Regions from separate parts of the Homo sapiens genome. Here region 1 is linked to region 2. Evidence: fine-mapped expression QTL. A gene starts in region 2. The other region holds a variant in brackets. All regions are shown on one strand. Distances are between the middles of the regions.

The links.
Region 1: its variant is fine-mapped to the expression of EPHA5 in tibial nerve (GTEx, PIP above 0.99).

What each region holds. Positions count from the first base shown.
Region 1 is chr4:65,523,922-65,531,921 of GRCh38, forward strand. All of the region lies in intron 3 of EPHA5 (EPH receptor A5), which reads right to left. Among named protein-coding and RNA genes, the nearest start is that of EPHA5-AS1, 140 kb to the right of the region's middle. The variant C/A (reference allele first, on the strand shown) is at 4,609.
Region 2 is chr4:65,667,010-65,676,417 of GRCh38, forward strand. It overlaps EPHA5 (EPH receptor A5), which reads right to left and starts at 3,480. Exons shown (of 17, transcript NM_001281766.3): 1 at 2,553-3,480. The coding sequence starts at 2,733. It overlaps EPHA5-AS1 (EPHA5 antisense RNA 1), which reads left to right and starts at 2,952. Exons shown (of 4, transcript NR_034138.1): 1 at 2,952-3,664; 2 at 4,767-4,872. RefSeq lists an enhancer at 1,098-1,629.

The DNA of each region.
Region 1 (8,000 bases), 140 kb before region 2:
CAGGTCCATAAAAGCTCTTTGAAAGCTTAGATGTAAATATCAAATGATGAAAATCCTAGAAGTAATTCAAAACAATGAACTAGAAGAACGACTTGGTCTCTCCTTCCAAGCAGTTGAAAATATGTAAAAATTTTACTAATGGCAACATTGCTTCACCATATACTTCATTATATTTTTTCTTTTACTATATTCCTGATTGGCTACAGTTATTAAGTAATCAAACAAGAGGAATGAGATTTTTACAGAGAATTTAGAGCACTATAATGTAAACATGTATGGGTACAATTTTTTAAAAGGTATACTGTTTCAAAGTGACCGAATAAAGGGAGAATAAGTCTATAGACAAAGTCTACAAAGTAAAAAAGATACTGTGCTTTGTCTAACTAGCCAGAGATGACTATGTAGACAAAAATGTGTTTCTTCCAAATTGTTCATATAATATCCTTTATTGTTGCCTTATATTTTTATACTCTAACAAACACATTCTTATGCTCTTCATAGTCTGTACATTTACATACCAACTTACATATCACATTGTTTAGTTCTTATCAATATTCTATGTTTTCTCTCTCCAAACTATAAGTTCCTAGAAGACCAGATTAATGTTGGATGGTATTCCAACATCCCTGTTTAGAAACAGAAAAATATAACTTAAATTAGTCAAATGAAGTATTATTAAATAACTCCTAGAGAAAGGAAGTATTATTAAATAGCTTCTAGATGAAGGAAGTTAAATATTTGCAAGTGCATACATAGCACACTTTATGATTTTTATAAACTGTGCCATTTCAGTACGTTTAAATTTTGAATAAAATCCTGGACATTTCCCATATGAATGAAGAAGTTTTTAGAGTACTGACACCAATAATTTTTCCAAGAAAAATAACAGATTGTATGGCAGCTGAAACCTGAGTATATAAGTAAATATGGCAGATCTAGTAGTTGTTTCTACAAACCAAAGGATGGGCTCCTGAGTTTTGTGTTTACAAGTATCTCATCCTTCAAAGAAAGATCTGCTCTGTTCCATAATGACACGTATCATTAAAAAGTCACATCTTTTTGTGAGTCAGTGTCTGATTGTTTTCCTTTCTTAGAAATATCTACCATATTCTATCATCTTTTAAATTTCATGTATAGTCTTATGGTGTATATCTCATGCCTTAAGAAAACCCTGTATTTGAAGGTAATAACAGATATATTAAAACTTATAATTCTTCAATTTTCCATCTACTGAAAGATTATTAACTATTAACTAGTTATCTCTTTTTAATAATATTAAAAGCTATATTAAAGGAGTGGCATTTGGCAGGAAATACTATAATTTATTTTTAAAGTTCCCTCTATGACTGTTGCTATAAAAGAGAAATAATTTAATATAATTTCATTCATTCATTCACAAGTCTTTAATTATTTTGTCCCAGGACCATGAAATGATAACAAAATTTTTAAAGACAGATTTAAATTTTATCATGAATCTAATATATAGCCTTTTATATATGAGGCTGGAACATTTTCATACAATGTATTTTTTTCCCCTGTCTACAGTGGGGATCAATGTTTGCTACAAGTCTCTTCCTGCTCTTAAATTGTACAGATACACATCTGCGGCCCATTTAAGTAACCTACTGCACCCATTGGAACCATTGGAAAGCTATTTACTAGACTCAAAAGAGCAGTGATTTCTGCCTTAAAGTGTTCACATTTAAACCAACAGACTTTCTCAAATGAAAAACATAAAGAAATAAAAACACAAGAACCTTACTGAAAACAAAGACTCATCATTTTCTCAAAGAAAAGCCCCCTGGCATGAATAAACCATGAATGTACAGATCTAGGAGTGGTATAAGAATAACAAAATTTATAGCTTATCAAATGTTTCTATTTCTTTCCTTCAAACAAGTACCATGGGATTTTTTCAGAATCTGTATTTCTGTTTCTCAAACAATGAACAAAGACTTTTAAAAATCTTTTGGTAGGGGTCGCTGTCTCAGGCGCTGATTATAAAGAGATGAACATTTCCTTTAATGATTCTGTCAGTTACTTAGCCCAAATTACACTCTCTGAATAACAGTTTCCTTGCTGTCAATTTCATCTTATGATTGAAATAAATCCTATCAGTATTTAGCCCAATACCGGGCACATGTTATTCAATTGATGGTAGGTATTACTGTTTTGCATATATCAAATATTGTTTTCAATGTTTCATTTATCAAATCAGATAAATTGATGTCTGTTGGGACAATTCTAATAGTAAAAAGGGTCACTATTGATACTACATGGATATAAAGGGAAAGGACTATAATTGTCCCAGACTTTTCAGTACATATGATTGACATAACGTGACTATGCCAAATACCAGGAACCCAAAAAGCAACAAGACAGAGTATCCAACCACAAATAGTTCAAGGTCTAGAATCCTTTTATGCTGGCTATAATTAAATTGCAAGAGGCACAAAACATTGTGTGAAAATGTTCCAGCCTCATATATAAAAGGCTATATATTAGGCTCATGATAAAATTTAAATCTGTCTTTACAAAAAATTAAAAATTTGATTTCATTGAATTATCATGGTCTCAAAATAGTTTTATTTCTTGTGTTTTATCAGATATTTTTTATTTCATAGGTTTAGAATATTAGGGTGTAAAATAAGATAAGTTAATGGCCAAGCAATTTCCTATTTAGTAAATTTCCATTGTTTGTTATAGTAAGTATCTACATGAGCTCAAATCATTTAGAGCAATAAATTAAGCCTGATCTCTGACATCAACTTAAGGTCACCAAAATGTCATGAGAGCCAAACTTTGCATATGTGTAGATTATATCACTCATATAACAACTGCATGGAATGGCTACAAGGTTTCTACAGTCTCACGTCTACCTTCTTAGAAAACTGCAGCATCTCCCTCATTTTCTTCCTTTTTATCTGCTTTTTTATTTTCAATAAAAGGCAATTGATCTTAGTGATAAATTTCCAAATCACATTAACAGAAATTTTAGAAAATAAAAAAATCTAATGCTACTAAACATAAAAGAGATCCTCATTCTTTCCTCTAAATGGGTAAGTGTAAATGTAGTTACCATTTCAAATAAATCAGACTAAAAATCATTTAAAATATTCATATTGCCCAGTGTTTGTGGAAAAGTGATAAAAAGAGAATTTGTATATAGTGCTTAGGACAAACACACTTTGGGAAGACATTTGGCAGTATCTGCCTAAATTTTACCTTTCTGCATATTTACTATACTAACATTCACATATATGTTGAGCCATATATTAAAATGCTTATTGTGTTATTACTTGCAATAGCGAAAAAATTAGAAAGAACCTATAATAGAATACTACATTGCAATGAAATTAAATTAGTTCTACATTCACCAAAGTGACAAACGATGAAAAATAATGCTGACAGTAAAAGTTGTCAAGTTATACGTGAAATATTTGTCAATTCCATAAAGTTTGAAACCAACAAAACAATAATATGTTCTGAATTAGCGATAGACACACACAGAGCAAATACATGGAGTACAAAAAGTCATAACTTCAGGATAATGTTTACGTTTGGAAAGGTTTATGACAGAATAAGAAGTAGAGTCTCTACTTTTAAAATGCAAGAAGAATGAAAAATGTCTTAAGCATTTCTTTTTTAAATTAGATCTATATTTTCAACCACTAACTCCTATGATTTGGTAGAAAAATCTGAGCATAATAACTGCCGGCTACTGGAACATACTAGGAAGTAAAGTTCTGGGTATCTTTATTAATATTATTTTTTAACTTTTATTTTAAGTGCAGGGGTTCAAGTGCAGGTTTGTTACACAGGTAAACTTGTGTCATGGAGGGCTATCGTACAGGTCATTTCATCACTTAGGTATTAAGCCCGGTGTCCACTAATTGTTTTTCCTGATTCTCTCCCTCCTCCCATTCTCCACTCTCCGAAAGGCCCCAGTGAGTGTTGTTCCCCTCTACGTGTCCGTTTGTTCTCATCATTTAGCTCCCACTTATAAGTGAGAACATGCAGTATTTGGTTTTCTGATCCAGTGGTAGTTTGCTAAGGATAAACATTTTGGTTAAATAAATGAATATTTAAGAGTTTAATATTACCAGACATTTTGTTTTATTATAGGGCTGGAATTTTAAAGTATGGTCAGCTTGAAATAAAATCTATCAACAATTTGACCAGAAAATGTTAGATAACAAAATGTTTCCTAACCCATTTCTTACATAATGAGAGAGAAAAAGCTTGCTGTAGATGTTTGCAAAATATAATTATAAAAGGGGAACTCAGCTAAGCATCACACGTCGGCAAAACCATAGGTGCTCTGAGTCAAAACATCACAGAAGAAATGAGCACCTTCTAAATGTAGCCTAACAAATCTAAAATTAAACTGAAATATAATGTGCCTTAATTTAAGTAATATTTTTTGCAAAGACAAAAATATGTTTCTTAAAGAGTGTAGTGTTTCCACTGAAGTACATTTTGTGCACTCAAGAAATATATTTAATTCGCTTCTTCCTCCGCCCTCCTCCTATCCTTAAGAGAAAAAAAAAGTCGTTAGTTTTCCCTGTTGCTTAAAAAAATCCGTAGAGAATTCAATGTGTACAGGCA[C/A]TTGTTTATTAAAATCCATCTTTTATTGTTTAATTCACGAATTTCCAAGAGGGAAATACGTAGTTCAAGATATCCAGTGATTTGCATACTATGTACTTGTCAACAAATAGGTAGAGTTGAGATTACTTTCATTTCCCTTTGTTTCATGTTATTTTTTTTCCAACTTTGGTTAAATCTGAATTTTAATTCTGCTCACATTCTGCCATTCCTAGGAAAGTGGCCTGAAGCGGACAGCAAGAGGAGTGCACTAAATCGAGCACTTAAATCACTTCTTTCCCCGTTCCATAACCAATTTAAAGACCATTCTGGCATTAATGCTCGGAAATAATATACTGTCAAGGCTGACACAGCAGAAGGACTCTACTTCAAATTATAGGATAGTCCAGGTGACCATGCAATTACAATTAACCCACTGCCCACAATGTCAGTGATAAACAGCTATGCAAGTCATGGTCTAGGAAAGCACTGAGGTAATATTGAAGTTATTTCTGAGGTTTTAGAGTGTTTAAAAACTATGTTCAATTAAAACATCTCACAGTTTCAAAAATTGGTTGCATAGTGAATGTAATAAATTTTCTTTTAAAACAACTATAGTATAAGACATAATAAACGCAATTCAAAGAATATCAGATATACAATTGGTGCTCAAGAAACTTTTATGAAAAAAAATAAAAGAATACAAGCACATTTGCAAAAATCCACAATCTTTCAAATCCCCAAACAGTGGTCTAATGTTTGGAATGGCTTCTCAAAGCCTAATTTTTGCATCATCAAGTTATACAAATTAATGATTATGCTGATCTACTAACCTTAATATAAATAAATTTATTGTTTCCTTTGAGTCTCATAAACATATATGTATACCTATGTTTATCTGTGTGCATACGTATGCATATTATATGCACACACACAAATGCATATTATATGCACACACACAAATACAACATATTCAGTTATGTACATCCTTCAGAGAAAGAAAGAAAAAAACAACAAAAAAAGAAAGACCAAGAGGGAGAGACAGAAAGACGGTAAAAACCCCTGGAAATTTCACCATACATACTCATATAATTTTCATTGTGCATATGTTAGATACATAATAAATCTACACAATTGCTTATTAATAAATGTCATGGTTTCAGTTTTCAACCCTGAATCACATAAGTGTGCTTGCATATATGAAACTGGAACAATGACATGAACGTATATAACTCTTGCTCTATTACTATATATCTAGGTAGAACTCAATACATTAAATTGGTATGATTGGAATTATAATTAATAGTCTACAAATAACTCAATGATCCATTCTTACAAAGTTCTGGTGGGTGTTGTTATTGGCCATTAGAAAGCAATATTTTCTAATTTAAAATAATATCGAAATTATACACATTGGAAACATTGATACCTAAGGTTATACTAATATATACAAATAAGATATTTGAGAAAGCAATGACAATATCTATCAACAATTTTAAAAAACATAACTATGTGTCCTTTGTTGTGACAGGTGCCAGGTGAATACAGAGATAATATAAGTTTTGAAAATTATTATAATCTAGCTGGGGAAAATCTATCACAGATGTCTTAAAAATAGGATTATTACATTTAGTTCAAACTATTTTGGGGAGGAAACTCAAGAACAACTTTTATAGAAAAAATATATGGAACTACTGGGATTAGAGCTATGCCCAGTAATAGAAAAAACATAATCTTGGCTCAGGTGAAATAAAGAGATTACCAGAGCATAGATTTAACGGCTGTTACTATGAGCAGTTGATTCTGAAAATAAAGATTAAAGACTTTAAAAATAAGACAAATAAACTTAAAATCCAATTGGCAGAAAATACTAAGCTATCGTATATATGTATGTAAACAGGTGTACATTTGTGTGTGTGTGTGTGTGTGCGTGTTTATGATGTGTTTGTTGTGTGTGTTTGTACAGGAGCACAAAGGAATAATATGGTCAACAGAGAACTAAGGATTCTTTGAATGTATGGTCAGTTAGAAATTCAGTGTAAATTATAGAAATTGTTGAATAAATTGTAGAAATCCAGCATAAATTGAGAAACTATATTAGCATCATAGCTTATGTGGATAGCGAAGAAAATGGGGTGTAAGGCAATTTCTGAATGACAGACTTCTGATAATTTTCTTGTTTCTGATTTTATAGAACTAACCTGACCTCTCCTAAGCCTCAGCTTCTTAATATAGGTATTATGAATTGAAATGGATAATAGTACTATGGTGAATACAGCCAGATGCCTATCCACTACCCATTCTTTCCTTTTTGCTTAGGAACAGAATCTCTATATTGGATGTAACAGTGTGTCCAACAATAAGCTGACATTTATCACCTCTCCTTGCAGAATAGAGGTGGAGAGAATTCAATGAGATATAAGTGAAAGTATAATAGTCGTATGTTGCTTCCAGGAATTTGCTTTAAAGGGTGCTGATTTAGCTGGATGGATTTTTTTTTATTTTTTTTATTTTTTTTATTTTTTTTATTTTTTTATTTTTTTGAGACGGAGTCTCGCTCTGTCGCCCAGGCCGGACTGCGGACTGCAGTGGCGCAATCTCGGCTCACTGCAAGCTCCGCTTCCCGGGTTCACGCCATTCTCCTGCCTCAGCCTCCCGAGTAGCTGGGACTACAGGCGCCCGCCACCGCGCCCGGCTAATTTTTTGTATTTTTAGTAGAGACGGGGTTTCACCTTGTTAGCCAGGATGGTCTCGATCTCCTGACCTCATGATCCACCCGCCTCGGCCTCCCAAAGTGCTGGGATTACAGGCGTGAGCCACCGCGCCCGGCCTTTTTTTTCATTTTTACCCTTTCCTCCTTCCTCCCTGGAAAGTGGAGTTGATGTTTGGTGATCCAGAAGTCATGCAGGGCTAGAACAGGAGTTTCTTTAAGAATGAAAGCTATATACTGAGATGTCTTTGCAGAATGACCATGATCCAGGAATCTGATCATAAAGAGGATATACTGAGATGTCTTTGCAGAATGACCATGATCCAGGAATCTGATCATAAAGAGGATATACTGAGATGTCTTTGCAGAATGACAATGATCCAGGAATCTGATGATAAAGAGGATATACTGAGATGTCTTTGCAGAATGACAATGATCCAGGAATCTGATCATAAAGAGGATATACTGAGATGTCTTTGCAGAATGACCATGATCCAGGAATCTGATCATAAAGAGGATATACTGAGATGTCTTTGCAGAATGACAATGATCCAGGAATCTGATGATAAAGAGGTACCATATCAGTCTTGTGCTTAGTAACTCTCAGGCTTCTTTTACATGAAAAAATAAATAAATTTCACCTACCTAGGTCTTTGGGCTTTCACTTGTATTAAGCAAAACTAGTTCTAATGAATACATAAGCCTA
Region 2 (9,408 bases):
AAATCACTAAGCATCTATAGATTGCAGAAGTCAAATTATATGAGAAAAAGTGATTAATGAGTTCAGCATATACATGAAATCTTTCTGCCCCCTGACCTTCCAAAGTCCCTCCAGAAGCAAACAAACAAATTGGAAAACTCTAATCTGAATCTCTAAAAAAGCCCAAACATTTTATGAATATTTTAGCATAAATAAATATTTTAATACACTCTGCTGCTCAATTTATAGCAATAGCATGGAGAAACAAGAAGAGAAGAATCTATATTTCACAGAGCAGAAATAAAGATCTAGGATACTAGGTGGAAAGATGGAAAACTGCTCAGCTGAGATAGGATGAATTAGATAATGACATAGATATTTACACAATTTTATTTCCAATTAAGTATAATAGTGACATATTACAAAATGTGCCCCAAACAGCAGGCTTTTTTCAGAGCACCAGGTGGTAAGGTACATCTCATTTTTGATTAGATCCCCAAGCCCCATCTCCGTGTAGTCCAAGTTTTGCTGTGTGACGGACTAGATGAGGTAAGACAATACAATCTGTGGGTGTTAAATCTGTAACAACAGCCAGGCTGTGTTCCACAAGATTCCAGCTCTGCCTTCAACACCTTAGGAGACCGGCGCTATTTCTCCTTCCTTCTCTTTCCTTCTGCCTCTTCCTCCCTGCACAGTCTTGGCTCTTGTTCCCATTCAGTGTCACTCTCCCTGAGAATTGAATTCTTCCAATTTTCTAACCAAGAGCGACTCCCTTTCATCTCCACCTAAGTTCTCCCCTTCCATCACACCTGGAGAGAGGACTTGAAATCTAACGGAAACACGAAAGGATGAATGATATTACTGTTAAACCTCTTCAAATTCAAACGAGGATGCCCCTTTCGGTGGAATAAGACAGTTAATAAAAGAGCCTCCTCCAAAGCTGTTATAATCCTCCAGACGTCTAACAGAATGAATTTAACATAAGGTGTTAATAAAAGGTCTACGACTCTCAAAAACATTTTTTCAACTTTATCAGAAAGGGAAAATACCCAATTGTTTGGCTTAAGCATGAGAGATAGCTATATATATGTATATAGATAAATGCAGATAAATACACATAAGCCTTTAATTAGCGTTTAAAAAATAAACTTAGAGGTTAAAGAGAAAGTTCATGGGATGAGGGCAGGGGAGCCTCTATCTGCCCTGCTTTCACACCCTTCCTTTAGAGCTGGCATTGCTGGGATATCAGCTCAGCGCCTTCTCCTACAGCGGAGACTGAACCCATGCAAGTCACGAGGACACACACGACTCCACCACTGCTGCTTCATCTTTCCGGTCTAGTGTCCCGTGCCCAGGAGTGGAAGGAATTTCTGCAAGGTTTTGAGCCTCACGCGTCGCATCCACAGCCCCAAACCGAAACCTCACCATTCTAGCCAAAGTGGGTAGGTTTTTCTATGTTTTCATGGTGGAGCTGACAGATCTGGATCTGAGATACTGTTCCCGCCCCTCCGCGAGTAATGCGCCCTTGGGCTGAGACCCGAGCTCAGTCCGGGTGTGGGAGAGGAGCAAGCGCTGCTGGAGGGGACCCAAAGGCAGAGGTCTCAGGTCCAAGAGGCAGGCGGACAGAGGGGCTGAGCACTGTTCCGGGAGCACGAAGAGCGACACAGGTGTTGCTCCCGCGCCAGCTCTACTCTCCCAGAAAAAGGCAGGGACAGTATTCTGGGTCTGGAGCACAGGATTGGGGGTAGGGAGGGGGACTGGGTACTCCTGGATCAGGTGCTGGCCAGAGCAGGTCTTTTCCGTCTTTAAGACATGCCCAGGTGGGTTTTAGCGGCAACTTCCTAGCAGCGACACTCCCCCTCACCCCTCCTGCCGCGGCATCCCACCTTCTCGCCTTCTTCCACCTTGGCTTGAGTGTGACAATGAACTCCCCCAAGAAGAAGGGCACCCAACTGTGTGGGGCGCCTTCTGTCCTTCGCTATACCCCTCCCACGAGAAATAAAAGCTCCTGCCACCCACCCCAGAATAGCAGCTGGTGATGCCCTAAATAACAGCTCCCAGCAGGCACTTTCCCCAAAAATAAAAGCATCCAGCCACCCCCACAACGTTTCCCATCACTGGCCTCAAATAACGGTTTCTAAAAGCCCCACTGCTCCAGAGATCCTTGTCACTGAGCTTCCAACAGTTCCCACTCCTTCAAGCCCGAAATGTCACTTCCCCACGCGCCTTAAGTGAGGCCCAGCCGCACCCATCCCCCTGGAACGGGCCTCCATTCCCCAAAGGAGGCCTCGACCTCCTTTCCCCCAAGGTTTTCCACCTTCCCAGCCCCCCAACCAGCCTCTGTCCACACGCATGTTCCTTGCCCAGCACTCCGCAGCTAACGTCAAACAATGCAACCAAAAACCGCAGAGGGGAGCGAAAAGGCCAGTGGAAGGGGACGACAAATACCAATTTGAGATGAGACTGCGATTTAGTCTGCAGCAGCAGCGTCCAGCGCGCTGAGACCTGAACTCCCAGGCCCCGCCTAGCCCCTCCGCCCCAGGTCGCCACGGTCCCCACCCCCATCTCCCTACCTTCGTTGCTGGGGCTGGCCAGGAGGGTCCGGAGTGCGGCGCACAGGAGAAGGCACGTCCAGAGGGGAGCCCGTCGAGGTGCAGAGTAGCAGCCGGCCAGGGACGCTGGGGTGATGGGGGTGTCGCCGCCGCCGCTTGGGGGCCGCCGGCGTCCCGCACCCCGGGGCCCCGAGCCCCGCATCTTCTCCGAGCCTCCTCCGGTGCCGCTGTCCCGAGCGGCTCAGTCCACCGCTTCGGCCTCGCAGAGCGGCGAAGGGAGACTCGGGAGTCCTCCTTGTCCCCCCTTGGGGTCCTACGCCTTCTGGCACGCGGCTCCTCCAAATGTAGGAACCACGGATCCGGCTGAGACAGCTGAAGTTTGCTTCTGGCTCCTCTCGCCTCCCCCTTTGGTGGGGTTAAATGAAATATTAGTTCTGGTTGCTAGTGCAGATCTGGACTCGGATCAAGGGTGTCGAGAGGGTCCTGGGTCCTGTTCCTTTGCCTTTCAAAAAGACTTTTTACGGATTGAGAATTTTTAAATACCACTAGGGGAAAGGTGAAGGTTCTTTGCAGCCTTCAGTGTTGAAATGGACGAAGGTAAGGAAGGCAAATCATTTTAAGACGAAATCTCCGATTTTTTAAAAAAGGAGGAAAAAAGCAGGGTGGCTAAGGATAAAGAAAGAGGACTTGAGAAAATGTGGAGAATGAAAAACAGGAGAGCAGCGAGCAAAAGCAAAGATCCAGAGTTCAAAGAGACTGGCAGAAGGAAATAGCTGCGGGCTGAGTGCTGAAGAGGGGAGGGACTGACGGCTGCCGGCCGGTAGGAGCGCGGAGCTGCGCTGCGGCGGCCCAGGAGCTGCTGCGGTTCCCGCTGCTCGGGGAGCAGGCGGTGTGTGCGCGGCTGCGAAGTCGAGGTTGAAACTGCACCGCCAAGGCGCGCTCCTGCTGTGTCTGGAGCTCCGGCGTCTCCTCTGCCTCCCAGCTCAGCGCCTCCCACCCTCCTTCCCTCCTCCTCTTCCCAGCTCCCCCGCCCTCTGCTGCTCGCAGCCTCGCCAGTGAGAATCTACTGTAAGTGTGAGTTGCTTCGACGAAGTCACACACCCACGGAGGGAAGTAATCTGGAGGCTGCCTTGGTGAGTGTTGCCTAGCGGTCTCCGGGAAAGGCGCGTCTTCCTCCCGGGATAATTAGGGCAAGGAATCCTGACGACGCTGGCGAGGACTGGGGTTCCCGGGAGGCGGAAGGGAGATCAGCCCCAGCTCAGCCGGCGGCCCTTAGAGACGCGGGTCCCTCCGTTTGGCATCTTGCCTGCTGTCCCTCACAGGCTGTGGCATCAACAACCTTGTCGTCACATCGCCGCGCATTCGCAGGCTCTGCTGGTCCGTGGCTAGTTTCTTAAACACCCATACCGCTTACCGCTGCTGACTCTTTCTGTTCTTCCCATACTTTGATGGCTGGAATAGGATAATTACTCAATGTTTTCTTCAGAAGTAAATTGTAGAGTAAATAAAGAGGCGGTAGCTCTGTTTGAGATTTCAAGGAGTCAAAGAATTTGACTATTGAGATTTGTAGTGTGCCAGGTACTTTCATAGGTGGCGATTTAATTCATTTATTTCATTGATAAAATGTTTTAGTATTTTAGAAATTGGACGATATGCAGATACACGACATACATTCCAGTGAAATTAGCCTCGGTCAAATAAATTCAGGGTTTTGAAAAATTAATTATTTTAATTGATTGTGCCCTATAGCATTGGGAGATTTACAAACAGTGAAAAAAAAAACAGTTAAAACAATCAACTTTCTATGCTTCACCTCTATTATGTCTTTTCTTGCTTTAGTATATTCCCTCGATTTATTCATTCTTTCAAAGAGATACATTTGAAGGACAATTTTAGTACACAGGCATTTAAAAACAAAAGGCTGCAGAGAAAGCACTTACAGAAAGGTCTGATTATAGAAGAAAGATATCTCATTTAATTTCATGTATAGTAACCACTGTAAAGCTTGGGCTTCCGTTCACACCTAATAAAGGTGAGTCAGCTCACCAGTTTTGACATATCTAGAGCCTTGTTTGTCTCCACAATAAATTCCTCACTATCTTTAGCTGGTGACATTTGTTTTTTGTTTAAATATTTGCAATAAAGATGAAAGAATAAAGCAGCAGTGATGCAATTTTGTAAAGAGGTGAAAGCTCATCTTTGATTTCTTTTTTTCCTGAAATGTTTTGGCACCAGAAGTCTGAAAGCAGGTTCTTTTTATTATAATGTGCTCCGAATGGATGAAGCAAATTTAGAGGAAGAGCAGTGAATCAGTTTCTCAGTTTGGCAAAAAGCCTCACGGGTGAGATGGAAAGTTAAAATTTATGTTTCTATTTGAGGACCATTCAAAATGTAAGCTCCCCTCTCCCCTACAATTATAATTGAGTTACTTAAAAATATTTAAGCAGAATACCAACTACGATATCTAAAGCCCAGAAATATGTAGTAAAACTAATATGAGTTTAATGGGGCTTTGAGCTCGTTCCTTTACTTCTACAGGCTTCAGTATCCTCATCAGTAAAATGAGGAATTTGGAGAAGACAATCTTCAAGCCTTCTTCCCTTCCGTTGGTTGCATGTCTATGTGACTACCCTGTTCATCTATCTCCAATTATTTACTATTGGCCACAAAATAACCAAATTTTTCAGCCTAGAATTTAAAGCCTTCTACTACAAATGGTTTAAATATATTTTTTATTCTATACTACAATGTTAAACTCATTTTTCCCCTAAATTACCTCATGCCTCTCTGATTTTTCTACCTGTCATTCCATTCTAAAGAAATCCCACCTCTGGAAATATTTATCCGCCCCCCACCTCACCCCACCACAACACACACACACACACACACACACACACACACACACACTACTGTCATCTAAATCATACCCAGTGTCCTAGGAGAGCCAGGCACTCAAGATTAAATTCTTCTTTTCTCAACAAAAAAGTTACTTCGTTCTCCTCCTCAAAGTACTCATAGCTTTACATAAATCAACACAATGCCAATATTTTCTGAATCAAAGGTGGAATAAAATTGTCTAACTATATCTAAAGAGAAGAAAGACAGAATTTAAATCTGGTTTGTCAAAGAAAACCTGGGACGCTGGTCAGCATGGGCATAATTGTGTTATCTTCTCCCAACATAGCTAAGTTACATGATTGAGAATACAGAAAGCAAAATTCTTTGTATTCTCCACCTTAAATTGCAGCCATCTTTCTCATAGTTCTTTAATAATATTGATTACACATCTCTGAAAGAATGAACAGCTGTAAAGTTCATTGAAGCTGTAAAGTTCATGAAGTTCTGATGACAACAATGAAAATCATTTTTTGATCTAAGGAGGGTTAATCAGAAAAGGTAATGATGGTGGTTTGACTTGGACTTCAAGCTCAAAGGAGATTCACATTTGGCCACGTGTTGATGTCTTGGCATATTAATACTTTTTATTTTAACACAATTACATTGAACCATGGCATTGCATGAAAACTAGATTTGGTTTATATTTTTCTTTTATACTTATTGTTTTGCACAACAAAAGGCCATGCCATCAATATTGGTTTTGGTGCCCTATTGTTTGCATTTCTCATTTCTTGGAATAGCTACTATGACCTTAAAAGATGCAAGTGGTTAGTGTCTCCCAAGATCTGTGCTTTTGTGTGACTTCAGTACTAAGTATTCCTGAAGGAAGGATATTCAAAGTAACCTTGATAAGGTGCCTTGAAAGTTTACTAACCTCATAAAAAGTTTTAATATTATAGTTAGGTTCAGTGTATCAATAAGCCCAAATGTATCTTCCCTGCATTCAAAGATTCAAGAAAAGCAATTTTGACAGAAAGCCTTGCTAGTTTTTCCTGAAGATTTGCTATGTGTAAAGCATTATGTGACGTTTTTACCTTAACTATTTTACTTAATGCTGACACTTCAACCCTGATGTTGGTGTAATTATTATCCCCATGTTAATGATGAGAAAACTGAGGAAATGAGATTAGGTGATCCAAGTAGTCTCACAGCTGGTAAGACACGGAAACTTTCACCCATGGGATTGAGTCTATTGGAGAAAAGTCCTACATAACAGAAGTAAAGAATAAATTTGATAGCCAGGTTGATCAGAAAAAGAGAACTACCCCAAAATTCTGCATGAATGGGAGCAATGAATACATGAAAATATTTTAATTTTCAGGTTTAAGTCTAAAAGCGATTTTCCAAATAGGTAGTATAGGTCAGATAAATGAATAGGAGAAAACAAGAAATGAAGGATCATAAGCAAGCATTACTTAAAGAAAAATACTGTTTCGTGTACATAAAAACATGCACACGATTTGTTTGTGTACAATGAAGACAATGGACCAAATCAAGGAAATAACAAGATTGACGTCTGTGGTCAGATAATAGTAGCTCAACACATGGCACACAGCCCCTTTAAACCATGGTAAAAAATATAAGCAACAGTCTTTACTAAAACAATTTAAATAAAACTCCATAAACTCAAGAACATTTTTCCTCATATAATTGTAGCAATTTTTTACAAATCAGTTTTAAATATTTTTGTCACTTAGCTAGATTCTTTCTTTGGGGGAATTTGGTGAAAAATACAAGCAAAGCAAAATTTTAACCCATGGTAGATTTTAGATGAGAAATTATATGATACCCTAATGAAACGATAAGATACCCTAAAGAAGTTAAGTTTTCAGATTCATAATTTTATAAAGAGGATAGATGTACAGTGATATTAATTATTTTGATCTCAAAGGTAAATATTGACTAAAATATATTTAAGCAATCAATAACTCTTGAAGTTCACAACATAGATAATATTGTAATGTATCCATAATTGTGTGTATTATGTCTTAAGTTAATGAACATAAAACATCAAATATTTTTTGTTTAGTGTTATTTCTTAAGCATTTTTTTCCTGAAGTCCTAGAATCTCTTCTTTTTGCTAATGACTCACATTTCTACCTATTAATGTGAAGTTAAATTATTTTTAAATTTAACAAGTTATCAGATGCGTGTTCAATTAAAAAATGCATTAATACCATTTTAATAAATTAATGAGGATATAAATATAGAAAGTATTTTATAACTTAACAATACATGAAATGCTTACTTATCAGAAATTTCACTTATTAAAGATGTCCATATCACAATCAGCACTCTTTTTATCTCTTTTCTATCAATATTGAGAACAGAATAAAGTTGTCACACTGTTCGTGATTATTAATAGGAAGTTATGTAGCAAAGAAGAAAGAATAAGATGTTCAGATGAATTACAGTGAGCCGAAGAGACATGGTGATTGTTGATGGTGGTGGTTTCTTCTTTAATCATTCTTTCATCAATGTGCTAGGATTGCAGATGTTGCAGCATAGCATGAGGCCAAGGCTACTAGAGTTTATGATGAGCCAAATTGACTTGCCAGGAAATTCTTTGGTTATTGTTTGCATCCAGCATCTTGGATAACTGGCATCAGATGAAGTTGTGAATGCTGGGATAATACGGACTTTTGGGACTGAAAAAGTAGGAAATGTGTGGACATAAGAGTCAGAAAATTGAAATAACACTACTGTTAGAGTTAAAATTCTACCTATTCTAACCTGTTTTCTGGACTCCAAAAGTATTTGCAAATATGTGAAAAATAAGCTGTAATATTTTTCACATTCAGAGAACTGTTTATTAATCTCAGTTGATATGTGACTTGAAATTGATAGCTAATCTACTCCTACAAAAACATATTTTATAAAATAATTGCTATAATTTGCTAGGGGAAAACTGATCAATTTTTTTCAATAGCATAAATAATAAAGGGGTACATATGCAACTAGGATTTTTTTATTTATTTATTTTTTTGAGACAGAGTCTCCCTCTGTTGCCCAGGCTAGAGTGTATAGAGTGCAATGGCTGGATCATAGCTCACTGCAGCCTGGAACTCCTGGCCTGCAGTGATACTCCTATGTCAGCCTCCCACGTAGCCAGGAATACAGCCTCCCTAGTAGCCGGGAGTCCAGCCCAGGCTTTTGATACCACTGTTCATTGTCTATTGAACAAGCTTCCAGCTAAAAGTTAGCAGTGATAAACTCATGTACTCTGATATGCTGTTCGTGGGATGTTAATCTGAAACATCTTTATTATCGTTGTTTTAAAATAACATCAAGTGCTTTTAAGGTATGCATAGTTTCAGATCTAGCAATTACATTTTTTATATTGTGAGTAAATTAAAATGGGCCAAAAGATTAAACATAGTGGTATTTTTAACTGATAAAAACCAGAAGTGTTCTAATCTTTAATACGAAATGGTTAATATATTATAGTATATTTATATAATAGAATATTATGGGATCATTTTAAAAATTTTATTTATTTATTTATTTATTTATTGAGACAGACACTCTGTCACCAGGCTGGAGTGCAGTAGTGCAATCAGAGCTCACTGTAACCTTGAACTCCTGGGCTGGCACTACAGGCTTGCAGTACTATACCTGGCTAATTTTTTTAAATTTTTTATAGAGATGGGTATCTCACTTTGTCCAGGCAGGTCTTGAACTCCTGGCCTCAAACCATCCTCCCACCTCAGCCTCCCAAAAGACTGAGATTACAGGCGTGAGCCACAAAGCCCAGGAGGACCATTTAAATATGAGAATATATATATATATAATACTTTCACTTTGATATTTAAAGCTATCTTTACATATATATAAAGATATATAAAGAGAGATATATATAAATATATACAAATATATATATTTTATATATATATTTATATATAAATTTATAAATAAACATATGTATATAAATATATATATGTGTGTGTGTGTGTGTGTGTGTGTGTGTATATATATATAC